5 separate regions of the Homo sapiens genome follow, and all the other regions are reported to be linked to region 2. Evidence: microRNA targets listed by miRTarBase, many of them from high-throughput screens and not tested one by one. Region 2 holds a microRNA gene; each other region holds the end of a gene's coding sequence.
What was found. The annotated mature microRNA hsa-miR-1249-5p reads AGGAGGGAGGAGAUGGGCCAAGUU and lies in region 2 at 1,439-1,462, opposite strand. An mRNA with a match to its seed (bases 2 to 7 or 8) in the 3' UTR can be bound and repressed. Matches are read on the target gene's strand: a 7mer-m8 pairs with bases 2 to 8, a 7mer-A1 pairs with bases 2 to 7 and ends in A, and an 8mer does both.

Region 1: miRTarBase lists KCNQ5 as a target of hsa-miR-1249-5p. Seed matches in the 3' UTR shown: 7mer-A1 at 330-336.
Region 3: the mRNA of ZNF134 is a reported target of hsa-miR-1249-5p. Seed matches in the 3' UTR shown: 7mer-m8 at 1,566-1,572.
Region 4: the mRNA of UBL4A is a reported target of hsa-miR-1249-5p. Seed matches in the 3' UTR shown: 7mer-m8 at 2,466-2,472 and 7mer-m8 at 1,079-1,085.
Region 5: the mRNA of GP5 is a reported target of hsa-miR-1249-5p. Seed matches in the 3' UTR shown: 7mer-m8 at 441-447, 7mer-m8 at 502-508 and 8mer at 1,399-1,406.

The regions. Positions count from the first base shown.
Region 1 is chr6:73,194,979-73,197,978 of GRCh38, reverse strand. It overlaps KCNQ5 (potassium voltage-gated channel subfamily Q member 5), which reads right to left. Exons shown (of 14, transcript NM_019842.4): 14 at 1-3,000. The coding sequence ends at 2,565. Among named protein-coding and RNA genes, the nearest start is that of KHDC1L, 29 kb to the left of the region's middle.
Region 2 is chr22:45,199,555-45,202,702 of GRCh38, forward strand. MIR1249 (microRNA 1249) reads right to left here and starts at 1,465; the gene lies at 1,400-1,465. KIAA0930 reads right to left here. Exons shown (of 10, transcript NM_001009880.2): 8 at 319-481. RefSeq lists an enhancer at 2,773-2,917 and a cis regulatory region at 2,845.
Region 3 is chr19:57,621,166-57,624,165 of GRCh38, reverse strand. It overlaps ZNF134 (zinc finger protein 134), which reads right to left. Exons shown (of 3, transcript NM_003435.5): 3 at 1-3,000. The coding sequence ends at 2,763. Among named protein-coding and RNA genes, the nearest start is that of ZNF134, 8.4 kb to the right of the region's middle.
Region 4 is chrX:154,482,727-154,485,726 of GRCh38, forward strand. It overlaps UBL4A (ubiquitin like 4A), which reads right to left. Exons shown (of 4, transcript NM_014235.5): 4 at 991-2,923. The coding sequence ends at 2,813. Among named protein-coding and RNA genes, the nearest start is that of UBL4A, 2.4 kb to the right of the region's middle. RefSeq lists an enhancer at 2,578-3,000.
Region 5 is chr3:194,393,958-194,396,957 of GRCh38, reverse strand. It overlaps GP5 (glycoprotein V platelet), which reads left to right. Exons shown (of 2, transcript NM_004488.2): 2 at 1-2,137. The coding sequence ends at 358. Among named protein-coding and RNA genes, the nearest start is that of GP5, 3.8 kb to the left of the region's middle.

The DNA of each region.
Region 1 (3,000 bases), not on the chromosome of region 2:
AAATGGTCATGGCTTCAATGTATAAAAGTTTTTCACAACATGGTTTATCACATTTTGCTATGATTAAGACCTCAGTGCTGTGTGTAGGTTTTGTTTCTGAATCTTCAGTCGTCAGCAATGCTGGGTGAGCTGTACTGTGTTTGAGACTTAACGAGGCCTAAGGAGGGGTCCCCAATACATTCAGAATTCCTGCTGCCAGTGGGGTTTGACCCAGGACAGAGTATGTCCAAGAATCAGTGCTACCTGAAAGTTGCTGCCTCCCTCCTCTTCCTCTGTTAATAATGGGAGAGAGCCTGCCCAGTCACGGCAGGTGTCTGGCTTTAGGTCAGTGGAGGGGTGTGTGTGTGTGTGTGTGTGTGTGTGTGTGTGTGTGTGTGTGTGTGTGTGTGTGTGTGTGTATGCAACATTCTTGCAAGGGGGAATCACAACTTCAGGTTGAATGAAGATGAAAAATTGATTTTCATAATTTACTAACATTCTGTATTTTGAAAATGAAAACAATTGCTTAAAAGGATTGACAATGTCTTAACTGAAGTGTAAAATTTAGCCTCTATCTTCTATACATTTCCAGCAGCCAAAAAGATTCTAAATGATTCTAATTGTCTTAGAATCCAAGTGGGATGCGAAGAGGAAGCTTTAAAAATTTCCATGTTTATCAAAAGGGACAAGGTTCTAAAAGGTTGAGAAGCACATTTTAGGTAAAGCGGAGAACTGGTTGACCTGGGGATGGAGGCTGGTTAAGGCCTGGTGAAGTTCAGAAGCAAAATACTGGCAGGGAATGAATAAGGAGTTAATGAAGAAGAAAAGCAGGGGAGAGTCAATGATGGAGAAAGCCTGTTGGGGAGGGCTGGGGAGGATTGGTGGAGTTCAGGGCCTCCTTCTTCCTTTGAACATCCACTTGATAACCCTGCTCATTCTGCTTGGCTGCTGGAGAAGTACTTCTGGAGGCAGCATTTATGTCTGCCAAGGAAACAACTTCCTTTCTTGAGTCCTCCTGTGGCTAGGGTTTAATTGAATTGAAATGCTATCTCTTATGTCCTTTTTTTTTGAATGTCATTACGTTGGCTGAAGTTCTGGTGACCTAAGATAGCTAGATGGGTTTCTAACAAGCAGTCAGCATTGCTTGCTTTCTGATAAATACATTTGTCATTTTGTTTCCCTTGGTCTTTTTGCTGCCATGATATATTTAAGTGTTCTGATTTGCAGACTCTGCCAGTACTATCTAGCTTCTAATTGTAAATGTTTATATCAGGAAATTGAACCAGTAATTTCAGATTTGGGACAACATTCTTGGGAAGAATAGAAAATTTTCACTACAGTATAAAAAGTAAAGGAAGTTTCGTTTTAGACTTTCATATGCAAAATGTACACATAATAGCAAAAGACATTCAGGGCATATTAAAAAATAAATACCTTGCAAAAATTCTCTGCTTATATATAAGAATAAGGGAAGATTAGGTAGTTGAATTCCCTAGCAATACTCATTTTCTAAAAAGTCTAGTTCTTCTATTTTGGTTTGTTTCTCTCCCTCTCATTGCCCTTTGAGGGGGAAGTCATTTTCTTTTACTTTGCCAACTTCCTGGTGGTGTTTCTGGGTTCTTTTCAAGCCTTTCCTATCTCAGTCCCACTCAAATGTCCCATCCCCCATAGTCCTACCTGTATGTCAGCGAAATGAGAATAGCTTCTCACACTTGCCCTTTACATAGGCAGTATTGGCAAGCCTGGGGTTGGCGCCATTGCAGAGAAACCAGTCCAATCACAATGGCTGTTCTACTGACCAGTATTTCATACGCTTGTGTAGAAGTTGACCACTTATAAAGTTGATTCTGCCATCAGGCAATATGTTTTCATAAAGTCAAATATGTCAGATAGTCTATTTGCCTCACTGGCCCTGAATTTCATTATTTGCACATTTTCTAATTGAAGAACATTCTTGTCATAAAGAACAACATGAAAATGATGTGCAAAATTGCTTGCCACAGCGCTAAATCACCAAAAGCACACAAATTGACATTCAAATTACATTAATAATAAAATGACTGAATAGGAATGGGTTGGCAAATATATCTTGAAATAAGCAGCCATTTCTATTATTCCCCAATTCTGCTTTAGTTGATACCTTATTAGCAGCTGTTGATAGCCATTGTGTTTAAATATACATTATGGCCTAATCTTGAAAATGTAGTTTGTATTTAGTCACAAAGCAGAAATGCCTGAAATTTGAAGGTGTTTACTCCCATAATTTCAAAATACAGTGTCAAATCTTCTAAATGACCTAAACTTGACATATTCATACACCCCATAGCATTAGCTGTGTTTGGTTTCTCAGGCTTTTTAACTCAAGGTACATTACTAAATGAGTGGGTTAATGTCGATGCACCTTGGAATTTTAGCCATCCCTAAACATGCATTTTCATGCAATTAAAAGGTAACGGGCTTATAAACTGCCTTTCATGTTCTTCCCGATTCTTGCAATTTCAACTTTTTAGAAGGGCTTTCGAAATAGTTCATGCAATGATATGTATGGCTAAAGAACTGCTATGCCTGGAAAGAAAATGAAGAACTTATTTCAGTTTGACATGAGGCAAGCTGAGGGCATCTGTACTTTCTCCTGCCTTACAAATGCTCTGAGATGATCGTGACCTTCCAGTCCTTAGAGAGTCTGATGCAAAGGCAGCTTCCCTGGCAGGCTGCGGTGCGGCATCAAAAGTGTCTGTCTCTGTCTCTTCGGGACCCACCTCTTCATCAGTTATAAACAATTTGGATTCCCTCCATTTGGGGTAAAAATCTTGGCTGCCTCTGGAGCCACTTGACTCACTCCCTGAAAGTTGTATATTCAGTTCCTCGGTCGACCTGATCAGGTTTTGCACAGACAAAGATTTGCCCAAGTCCTTCGGCACCATGGGACAGACAGACAACAGAGTTTCTCCTCCCATGTCAAAGCTTTTCCTCATAGAACGGTCCTTGGTGAGATTTGACTGTGCAACCTGAACATTTTCC
Region 2 (3,148 bases):
TTTCTTCCTTAAGCAGGCTGAAAAGCCTTAGAAAGGTGGGAAATCCCCTGAAACTGACCAACTGCTGCACATCTGCGCTCCAAGCACTCTGCCAAGGAGACGCCTGAGCCCACCAGGACGGGACCCCCAGAGGCAGCCATTTCTGCCTGTCCCCAGCTCTACCCCTCAGCTCCTGGAGGGCTGCCTGGCACATGGCACCCACTCTCTAAGTGCTGCTGAATGAACAAATGAATGAATGAATAAATGAATGAATGACTGGTCTGGATCAAGAAGAGACTGAAGGGCACGGGGACCCTAGGGCACGGAGTGGGGGGTCACCTCCACCGTCGTCCTCCCGGAAGAACTCCTCGCTGTCGTTGGCCGAGTGCGACTTCTTCATCTCAGCGATCCGGTTCCGGGGCACCTTCCTCTTGAGGGATGGGGAGAAGAAGGCAGGCCGGTTGTTCCGTTCTGGGGTGGGGGGTGTGCTGAAGGAGGTCACCTGGGAACAAGCAGCCAAAGTCACCAGAGTAGCAGAACAGCCCCCTCCCCGGGGGTCCCAACGCCCCTCCTATCCCACCCTCAAACAACCTGACACAGCTCCCAGGGAAGAGGCCGCTGGCCCAGGAGGACCCAGGCCCAGCCGGCCCGTGCTAGGTGGGGCCTAGAGACTGGAAGATGCGTTCCAGCCCAGGGGCCAGCAGGACACCTGGCCACCAGTGCTACCCGAGGAGGGGCCAGGCTGCTGCCGCAAATGGCAGAAAGACCCCCCTCCTCTGGGCCTCAAACAGTGGGTAGGGGGTGTTCAAGCACAAAGTAACAACAGCTGCTGACGCTGAGTGAGCACTGGCCCCACACACAGACCCTCTGAGCCTCCAGCTCCGTGAGACAGGGGCTAGCGTCAGCCCATCTGACACATGGGGAAACTAAGGCAGGGACCGAGACCCTGGCTTGCCTGTGGTCACCAAGCAGGACGGCAGCAGCCCTGTCTTCTGTCCCCCAGGGCCACGCTCCTCATCCTACTTCTCAGGGCTGACGTGGCCCCATCCCTCTCATTCCCAGCACCCTTCACAGGAAATACTGTGCTAAGTAGCTCTATGCCTCTGTCTTCTCCCCACTTCTAATCACGTTTGGTTCTGTTCACCAAACATTCACACCCACTCAGGGCCAGGCAGGCACAGCACTAAGGACAGACAGGCACATTGCAGGTCCCTGCCCTCAAGGAGCTCACAGTCTGCTGGGGTGACAGACTCAGAGAGTGACAACCATAGACAGCATGCTGGCTGTGGAGACAGAGAAAGAGAAGCACAGGATACATGAAGCACAGAGGCAAAAGGGATCCACAGCCTGGGAAATCAGGGAAGGCTTCCTGGAGGAGATGCCGCTGGAGCTGGGTCTTGAAGGACGAGTAGGAGTTCGCCAGGTGAAGAAGGGGGGGAAGGGCGTTCCAGCCAGAGGGAACTTGGCCCATCTCCTCCCTCCTCCCCATGCCAACAATAATCTGAGGAGCAGGATGAGCTGGGACTGAGACTTCGGGAGCCCCGTCAGCCTCCTCGTCACGGCTCCGACATCCACCAAAGTCCTGGCAGCTGCTGGGCTCCAGACGGTGTTCCCACAAGCCGGGGAAGGTTTTTAAAAGATAAAAGAAACAAACAGCAGCAACCACAATACACAGAGTCAGCATGTGTCACGCACTGGCTCCAGACGACCCCGCCAGAGAAGGAGACAGGTAATAGCAGGCGCACAGGCGGCAGTCCCCAGGGGCCAGCCCTGCTGCTGACCCTGTGTGACCCTAGCACATCCCTCCTCCTGAATCCCAGGGCTGCCCAGCTGCTAAGGCACCAGGGACTTTCACACCCCTCACAGCCACTCCCGCTGGACAGATGGGAAAACCAAGGCTCAGGCAGGTCTAGTGACCTGTAGTCACTCAGCCCTCAGGCTGTGGCTGGAGGTGGCACCCGGGTTTGTCCAGCCCAGAGCTCGGGCCACATCTTCGTAAGGACTTTCACACACACATTTTGTCAGAGTCCCAGGGCATAATTTAGGACCAGGGAGAAGAACCAGGCCCTTTATCTCGGAAACAAACTCAGAAATATAAACCACCTCATTCCAAAGACAAGAGAGGCCCCTGCCTGGAATTCTCACCCATCTTTGCAAAAAATAGCACTTGCTGTCTTTGGCTTGCAAAACACATTCATTGCAGAAGATACCTCCCCCCCAAAAAAAGATATACAGAAGAGAAAGAAAACCAACATCTGACCACCCGGAGATATGCATGATTCAGATCTTTCTCGAACTAAAAGTATAACAAACGCACACTCCCTCATCTCAGGCATGCCTGCGGTAATGCATCGTTTACATTCCCACGCCTCTGCTTTCCAAGTAGGTCAACAGCAACTACTGCAGCTGCCACCTGGGAATCCTCCTGAGGGCCAAGCCCCGGATTCCTCAAAGCCTCCCAAATACTGAAGGAGCAGGTATCCTCGTGCCCTGTTTCTAGATGAGAAAACTGAGGCTTGGAGAGGAAAAGAGACACACCCAAGGTTATGAGAGCAGCAGAGCAGGATTCTGGCTGTGGGTGGCGTCTCTCCTGGACAATGGCTGGGCAAGACTGCCCCTGGACCTGTGCCAAGGGCACCCCCCTGCCCAGCACACCTGTACTCTTCCAAGAACTACAGCTCTGGGCAGTCCCTCTGGAAGAACCAGGTAGAGCAAAGCAGCCAGTGGGCTGGAGACCTTCTCCTGCCTGTGCCCCACCAAAGGCTTCTGGGAACAAAGCTGCTGCTGACCTCAGCCTCCCGCCCTGGGGAAGGAGAGTGGCCTAGGCAGAGCAGGGCCCCAAGCCCAGTGCTATCCCAAGAGACCTTGTGACCTGGGGCAAGCTGGCAAGTCTGGTTTCCGGCTGTGCGAGGCAGGAACGCCTCTCCTGCAGCAGAACCTCCTACAAACCGCGGGGCAAAGAGCTGGGTGGCCTAGGCCTCTGCATGCGCTGGCTGACCCTCAGTCACCATCATCCCCATCTGACTCACCGGGGAAGGCCGGCCACGTGCCCACGCTCACCCAGCAGGTCCACCCAGGCAGGCGCCAGGGCCGGGCCTGGGTCCCCAGCCAGTCTCTTCTGCCCACTGGCTCTGTGGACTCAGCCTGGCTTTGTGGCATCTCAGGGAGG
Region 3 (3,000 bases), not on the chromosome of region 2:
ATCCCAAGAAAATCTGAAATCTAGTTTGGCAAATGCCACTGGGAGTCAAGACATGGGAATATCACATGGTTCAGGACTCTGCCCACTGGACTCTCCTCTGCTCTGAGTCATCCTTCCTTTCTCATGAAAGGTAGCAAGGGCTTGCACCTGTTTCCGCAGCCAGTCCCATGTATAGAATATTACAACCTTTAACTTCACACTTTACATGCCTACACCCTTTAACTTCATACTTTCAAGGTCCCTTTAGACCCAAGGTGAGCATTTCCACTGGTATAAAATTTTCAAGAATTTTGTGAGTCTCCTGTACATCACTGAAATTCACAACATTAGAAAAGAGGTTTATGCAGATTATTCCTCCTAGGGAATCCCCTATCTATATTTTTGGCTTTTGCTGAGATGAGTGATAGTTTAAACTTCTTATAAATTGTTTGTATTGAGGGGATCTACAAGTCACATTTAATCTCTTCAAAGAGCTTTTTGTGTGACAGTGTTCTGATGTATGTTTTGATCCCGGTATCAGCAAACATCCTTGGCTATCTCTCTAAAACATCTCTCTCTCTAAAACATCTATCTTTCCTAACAATGAATCTCTTAATTTCAATGGTTTGTTTTTTTTTTCCAATTAAGATGGGCTGAGAATTTCCCAAATCATCAAATCTTAGGTCTTTTCTGTTTCACAGTTCTTCCCTGTATGTATCTCTTTTCCAATATATTTTACTATAATTAGTAAGATATATGGTCACACCTTCAAAACCTCTGCTTAAAAATGTTCTCAGCTAAGTGTCCACATAAAGACTCATGCATCAATATTTGCAGCAGCTTTTTAATATTTAAAAATGGGGGTGGAGTACAGACATCAATTAAGATAAATGGATAAACTGTGGTATATCCATACAGAATATGACTCAGTAATTTTAAAATGGACTGTTCATACATACCATGGACAAATTTCAAATTATGTTGCATGAAAGACAGCATGCAAAATTAACACTTTATAGGCAGACTTACATAAAATTCTAGAAAAGACAAATTTACCTACAGTGAAAACTACTCAGTGGTTGCCTAGGGATTCTGGGGGAAGGCGAGCACTGAGAGAAAGGTTAAGGGCCTCAGGTTAACTTTGGGGGTAACAGATATGTCCAATACCACTGATAGGGTGATAGTTTCAAGTGTGTGTGTGTGTGTGTGTGTGTGTGTGTGTGTGTGTATCAAGACTTAACTCGTACACTTTAAATATGTGCAATATATTGCATGTTGATTACACCTCAGTGAACCTATAAAAAGTTATCCCATTTAAAAATCTGGATCTCCCACTTCTATTGGAAACTGGACAACTGGACATCACTAAGAGTGACTCTACCTCACTATGGTGACTCTTATCACTCCAAATATCTTGGGAAGACAATCTCTTCCTCAGTAGTAAGAAAAACTGGCAAACAATGAGGACCATTGCCAAAAGAGTCACCAGAAACTCCAGCTGGTCACAAAAGCTACTTCCTTGGACCACACCTCTTTACTCCCAGGGTTACCGCCTGTGCCGCAAAGACATTAGGTAAAGAGCCCAGGGAGGGAGAGGAATCTAGAAAAACTACATTCGTTGCTGCACCAGTGACCTTGACCTAACAGTAACATGGCCCTGGAGATCCTGAGATTTCTGGATACCCTGATCCCATTCAGCCTTAGTGCCTGGACTGTCTGTGGATGTGTTTTTACAATGGGCACTTCCCCTCTAGTTTGCCACAATCTCCCCAATCCCAATTACTCACACTCAATATTTATCAATTTTGTTTCCCTACTGGATGCTTTAGATCTTACCAACAGTGGCCTGTGAAACAGATTCAGGCCTTCAGGGAATATGGCCACTCAGCAGGTCCTGAGGAACAGCTTTCCCTCAACAGTGTTGGGGAACATGGGACACATGCTGCAAACAAGACACCCAATCCATGCTGTTTCAAAACACTGCAGGCTGTCACAGCAGCAGCACCCTCCTCAAGGTGAAATATGGGCTCTCAAATAACTCTAAAATCCAGACAAATCAGGTCTACACAAGATCTTAATTCTTACTTAACAAGCTTTGTCAGCTATGGAAGTTAACATCAAAACTGGACTAAGAACTGTTCTCCCTCAACCCACTGTCCCATTTGAGGCAAAGTTGGAGGCACCGCACAAAGGCTGTCTTCAGTTTGGCAGAGCCTGTTTTCAATCCACCCCAGACCATAAGAAGAAGCCCCAAGATTAAATGTGGCTTAAACTGTAAAGCCTTTATTATCACAAACCAGAGCAACATGAGGCAAGTACTTTCCCAGGCCAGGTGACTTGGAGGCTGGAAAAACTTGATTACAAGTATGTGAGACCAAGAATATCCATGAAGAAAGTAAACTTTTTGTATAAGCCACCAGCAGATACAGCTCAGACCCTCTTGGCTAAAAATGGGTCATATCCATACCTATACCTGTCATACAGAAGGGAATGAGGACCCCCAATGAACTCAGGCATTTCATGATTTTCTCCAGGGACTGGACAATACAAAACCCTGCCTTCCCCAATGCTGGGGTATCTTAGCTGGTAGAGTTAAGATGGTTTCGGCCACATGGATTGACAGTGACATAACTCTGGCAAAAAACCTGAGCAAGTCAGAAAGTGCAACATATCCCTAGAAGGTTCCCACGTACCTGGCACCATAAGGTATCTCCTTTGTGTCAATGTTCAGATACATGAAATTCAACATCTGATTGATGAGTCCTGTTGTATTCAAAGCACTCCTAAAGCCTGCCTGCAGTGTGAACTTTCTGGTGCCGATTGAGGTGGGAGCTTAAGCTGTAGGCCTTCCCACATTCACTGCACTCATATGGCCTTTCTCCAGTGTGAACTCTTTGGTGTCGAACAAGGTGGGAGGTTCTGATAAAGTCTTTCCCACATTTACTGCACACAAAAGGCCTTTCACCAGTGTGAACCCTCTGGTGTGCAATATAGTCAGAACTTCGACTAAAGAATTTCCCG
Region 4 (3,000 bases), not on the chromosome of region 2:
AAGAGGGTGAGGAATGAGGACTGCCGGCCATTCAGTGGGGCCCTGAAGGTGTATGCAGGCCGCTCCAGCTGGGCCCTGGAGGAGGACAGGGCAGTTGCTGTGTGTCTCTCATCTCTCCTGAAGGCTTTTCAGGGCTGGGAGGCTCAAGGCTGGCCACCTCTGCTGCATCTACTCCTGGGAGTACCAGGCCCGGGCAGATCTATTGGAGCTGGTGAGGCTCACATGGGACACCAGCTGATCCATTGCCAGGGAACCTCCCCACCCCAAGGCAAATGCTGCTGTCCTCTGAGGCCGCTCTTCCTCCCGTGGGCCCTTGGGAAACGACACCAAAAGCACCTCATCCCAGCTGGGCCCTTCACTCATGCTGCTATCTCCTGATGTCATTGTAGTCACACCATGGCCGCAGGACTCAGATACTGTCCCGAGGCCCCTCCCTGAGGGGCAGGTGGTGGGTCTCAGGGCCCTTCACCGGGCAGGGGGCAGTGGATGACTCGGTGCTACCTCTCAGGGCGGACAATTGGCTCAGAGGGGCGCAGCACCTGCAGTAAACATTCTGACCCCTGTTAAAGGATCTCAGCATTGGGGGGGCTGCAGCCTGTGGCTGCTCCATCTTCATGCAGAATCCCCAGTGTCCTCTAACGATCCCCCCACTTCCTGTCTCCCATCCCTGCAGTGTTTCCTCTCTCTGGTGCTTTCCCTAACCCAAGCCTCAGAAAACGCTTTCCCTGTGTGATCTTGACGCCTCCAGCCCTCTCCTCCACTACCTGCGAGGTGGCCCTGATCTGACACATGCATGGCCCCTGTAGTGGACAGCTGCCATTTGCGGCCACCATTGAGGATATCCATTCATCCAGCCCTCCCCCAGAGCCTTCTGTCCCTTGCATAGCCCATGTGTGTCCAGGGAAGTGGCCCCATGCCTAGCTCCAGGGAGCCAGCCCTGACGGAGAATTACCCCCTACCCCAGCCAAAATGATTGGACGCACAATCCAGTTCTGACCAACGAGAAGAGTGTTTATTTGCTGGGGGCATCTGAGACAGCAGAGGTGGTACACAGAGAAGATGCTGCTCTGGCAGTGAGGGAGGGATTCCGTGGAAGCTGCAGGCAGCCATCTTTTCATCCTCGGAGGTGGTGGCCTGGGATGTAGCAGATACCAACGCAGAGGGAGGCAGAAGACACTGGGTGAAATTGCTCACCTGCTGCCAATGCCAATACCACTGGACTTTTCACTTTCATAAGCCAAGAAATTTCCGTTAACTGATTAAACAAATTGCCTTTATTGTTAAACCAATGATTGGATATCAGAAACAGCCTAGCTAATATAGCTCCTTTTGGATAAAAGTAGAAGCCTCACATTCACCTTTAATGTTATTTCACTTTTTCCAAAATCAATTTCCTGGCACCACACAAACAAGAACACTGGTAAATGTATCACCTGAACTGCAGGCCACACATGCTCACGAGTGTGTCCCTGCCGTAGGTGGCTTTGAAGCCATATACATGGCTCTCCAGCTCTCGTGGGGGGCCAGGGGCTTCTGTGTGCTCTTCAAAGCCTTCACCCATTGGGCCTCTGTCCATCTTTCCAGCCTGGGGACCCAATATTTGCCCCACAAGGCCCAGGCAGGAGGGCCTCCAGCACGCGCAGCCCTGACCACACTGTGAGCAGCTCACTTGGCAAGGGTGAAGGGCCGGAGTGGCGTCCTCCTGATGTGGCTTCCTTCCAGCCTCTACCACCCCTGGGGGCCTCCTCCAAGGAGCAGGTGGTTAGATGTCCTCTTGTGCCCACACACACGGCAGGGTGGAGGAGGATGAACCGGAACCCAGTCCATGCTTCTGCCCCCACCCTGGCACCCCAAGGTTTCTTCTCAGGCAACAAGGAGCACACAAAGTGAGCCCCTGTACACAGGTGGCTGGGATATGTTCATCTTCCACAGGGAGGCCAGTGCTGGGGATGAGGACAAAGGCCTACGCCCAGTCCCAGCTCTGACACTGCCTTGCTGAGTCACCCATCAGCCCTAACGCTTCCTGGACGAGACAAGCAGATAGGGTGCCCCAGAGAGGAGCTGTGTCACTAAGGGCCAGGACACCCCATCTCTGGGTCACACTTGGCCACGGCTTCATTTTTGGCTTCAGTTTGTTTACTGAACAGAAGGGAGAGGGGCCCTGTGAGACAGAGGACACTGACTCAGGTCGGTGAGTGGCCCTCACTGTATAGAGTCCATGGCTGGGGACCAAGTGGCACTGAGACTCGCCCAAAGTCACATCACAGAGCTGGGGTGCCTTGCTGACTCCCTGGCCCCAATCTGCTTTTCCATTTGTCGAACGCACACTGGCACACTGGCTGCAGCAGCTGCGGGGGTCGGGGGGTTCCAGGGCTGGCTGTCACTTGGCCTCCTGCAGAGGTAAGCTGAGGGCTATGTTGGACCCGCCAGAAGTCAGGTGACAGCTGCTTTCCCTTTCAGGATCGGGAGGGAGTCACCTGAGGGTATATTCTCAGTGGGCTAAACATGACATGCGAGAGCCCAGCTCTCCAAGCGGCCCCTTCCTCCTTCTCACACCAAGGCACTTTCAGAAGCCGCTGGATTCCGACTGGGGCTGTGCCACTTCATCGCCGGTGCCTCTGCTGTGCCGGCTCTCCTCTTCTGAGGGTGTGGAAGCAAACCCAGGTCAAGCTGTGAGGAGTGCCTAGCACCTGGCCAGAGCCAGGTACATGCCAGCTATGATGATGATGAGCCCAACTGCAACAGGAGAACACACTTAGTGCGACATGCAGCGGTAGCCTGGCGTTGGGCACCTCCCCATGCTCCGAGAATTCTATTTGGAGAAGCCCTTCTCCATTGTCTCAGTCACTTCAGGGTGCAGGAAGCGGCTGGCCAACCGTTCGATGTCGTCCAGCGTCAGGCGACTCAGGGACCTCTCGTAATCCTGGGGAGAGAAGGGCAGGAAGATTCAGGGGCTGCCAGTGGTGGGGGGGCATACACTGCAACAGAGGTAGGGGCTGG
Region 5 (3,000 bases), not on the chromosome of region 2:
CGTGGGCGGGGAAGAGCCCCCACGGTGCGCAGGCCCTGGGGCGCACGCCGGCCTGCCGCTCTGGGCCCTGCCGGGGGGTGACGCGGAGTGCCCGGGCCCCCGGGGCCCGCCTCCCCGCCCCGCTGCGGACAGCTCCTCGGAAGCCCCTGTCCACCCAGCCTTGGCTCCCAACAGCTCAGAACCCTGGGTGTGGGCCCAGCCGGTGACCACGGGCAAAGGTCAAGATCATAGTCCGTTCTGGGGGTTTTATTTTCTGCTTTTAGCTGTTCAGGCCATGATCACCGTGATCATCGTGTTTGCTATGATTAAAATTGGCCAACTCTTTCGAAAATTAATCAGAGAGAGAGCCCTTGGGTAAACCAATGGGAAAATCTTCTAATTACTTAGAACCTGACCAGATGTGGCTCGGAGGGGAATCCAGACCCGCTGCTGTCTTGCTCTCCCTCCCCTCCCCACTCCTCCTCTCTTCTTCCTCTTCTCTCTCACTGCCACGCCTTCCTTTCCCTCCTCCTCCCCCTCTCCGCTCTGTGCTCTTCATTCTCACAGGCCCGCAACCCCTCCTCTCTGTGTCCCCCGCCCGTTCCTGGAAACTGAGCTTGACGTTTGTAAACTGTGGTTGCCTGCCTTCCCCAGCTCCCACGCGGGTGTGCGCTGACACTGCCGGGGGCGCTGGACTGTGTTGGACCCATCCGTGCTCCGCTGTGCCTGGCTTGGCGTCTGGTGGAGAGAGGGGCCTCTTCAGTGTCTACTGAGTAAGGGGACAGCTCCAGGCCGGGGCCTGTCTCCTGCACAGAGTAAGCCGGTAAATGTTTGTGAAATCAATGCGTGGATAAAGGAACACATGCCATCCAAGTGATGATGGCTTTTCCTGGAGGGAAAGGATAGGCTGTTGCTCTATCTAATTTTTTGTTTTTGTTTTTGGACAGTCTAGCTCTGTGGCCCAGGCTGGCGTGCAGTGGGCCGTCTCAGTTCACTGCAGCCTCCGCCTCCCAGGTTCAAGTGATTCTCATGCCTCAGCGTTCTGAGTAGCTGGGATTAGAGGCGTGTGCCACTACACCCGGCTAATTTTTGTACTTTTTAAAGTAGAGACGGGGCTTTGCCATATTGGCCTGGCTGATCTCAAACTCCTGGTCTTGAACTCCTGGCCACAAGTGATCTGCCCGCCTTGGCCTCCCAAAGTGCTGGGATTACAGGCGTAAGCCACTACACCTGGCCCTCTTCATCGAATTTTATTTGAGAAGTAGAGCTCTTGCCATTTTTTCCCTTGCTCCATTTTTCTCACTTTATGTCTCTCTGACCTATGGGCTACTTGGGAGAGCACTGGACTCCATTCATGCATGAGCATTTTCAGGATAAGCGACTTCTGTGAGGCTGAGAGAGGAAGAAAACACGGAGCCTTCCCTCCAGGTGCCCAGTGTAGGTCCAGCGTGTTTCCTGAGCCTCCTGTGAGTTTCCACTTGCTTTACATCCATGCAACATGTCATTTTGAAACTGGATTGATTTGCATTTCCTGGAACTCTGCCACCTCATTTCACAAGCATTTATGGAGCAGTTAACATGTGACTGGTATTCATGAATATAATGATAAGCTTGATTCTAGTTCAGCTGCTGTCACAGTCTCATTTGTTCTTCCAACTGAAAGCCGTAAAACCTTTGTTGCTTTAATTGAATGTCTGTGCTTATGAGAGGCAGTGGTTAAAACAGGGGCTGGCGAGTTGACAACTGTGGGTTCAAATCCCAGCTCTACCACTTACTAACTGCATGGGACTTTGGGTAAGACACCTGCTTACATTCTCTAAGCCTTGGTTTCCTGAACCTTAAAACAGGATAACATAGTACCTGCTTCGTAGAGTTTTTGTGAGAATTAAAGGCAATAAAGCATATAATGACTTAGCCCAGCGGCCTGCAGGCAATACATGTTAATGAATGTTAGCTATTATTACTAAAGGATGAGCAATTATTATTGGCATCATGATTTCTAAAGAAGAGCTTTGAGTTGGTATTTTTCTCTGTGTATAAGGGTAAGTCCGAACTTTCTCAGACTGGAGGTTACATTCACATCAGTCTGTCTTCCCCTGCGGATGGCCTCAGCCCTGGGTGGCCAGACTCTGTGCTCACAATCCAGAGCAATGGATCCTCCAACACCACCAGGTGGATGTGGAGCAGGAGAGCTGGATCGTGGCATTTGTTTCTGGGTTCTGCAGCTGTGGGAGTTGGTTTCTGGGTTCTCCATTGGTCTACTTGTCTAGTCCCATACCAGACTCACGGTCTCCATTATTGGAGCTTTAATAATTTTTGGTATAGGGTCATCTCTCCACCTTGTTTTTCTTCTATTCTTGGTTCTTTGCAATTCTATGAATATTTCAGGGTCAGCATGTCAACTCCATTGAAAAACCCTGCTGGGATTTTAATAGAACTTACAGCTCACGCCTGTAATCTCAGCACTTTGGGAGGCTGAGGTGGGTGGATCACAAGGTCAGGAGTTTGAGACCAGCCTGGCCAAGATGGTAAAACCCCGTCTCTACTAAAAATACAAAAATTAGCTGGGTGCGGTGGCAGGTGCCTGTAATCCCAGCTACTTGGGACACTGAGGCAGGAGAATCACTTGAACCCGGGAGGCGGAGGTTGCAGTGAGCCGAGATCGTGCCACTGCACTCTAGCCTGGGCGACAGAGCGAGACTCCATCTCAAAAAAAAAAAAAAAAAATTGCAGTAAATTTAAAACTAATTTGGGGAAGAATCTGTATTTTTTACAATACCTAGTGTTCTTGCCAGTAAGCATGGTTCATCTTCCCATTTATTTACGTCATTTTAAATCTTTCAGTGATGTTTTAGAATTTTTTTTATAAAAACCTTCACTATAAGAACAGAAAACCAAACACCGCATGTTCTCACTCATAGGTGGGAATTGAACAATGAGAACACTTGGACACAGGGCGGGGAACGTCACACGCCTGGACTGTCGGGGGGTGGGGGGCTGGGAGAGGGATAGTGTTAGGAG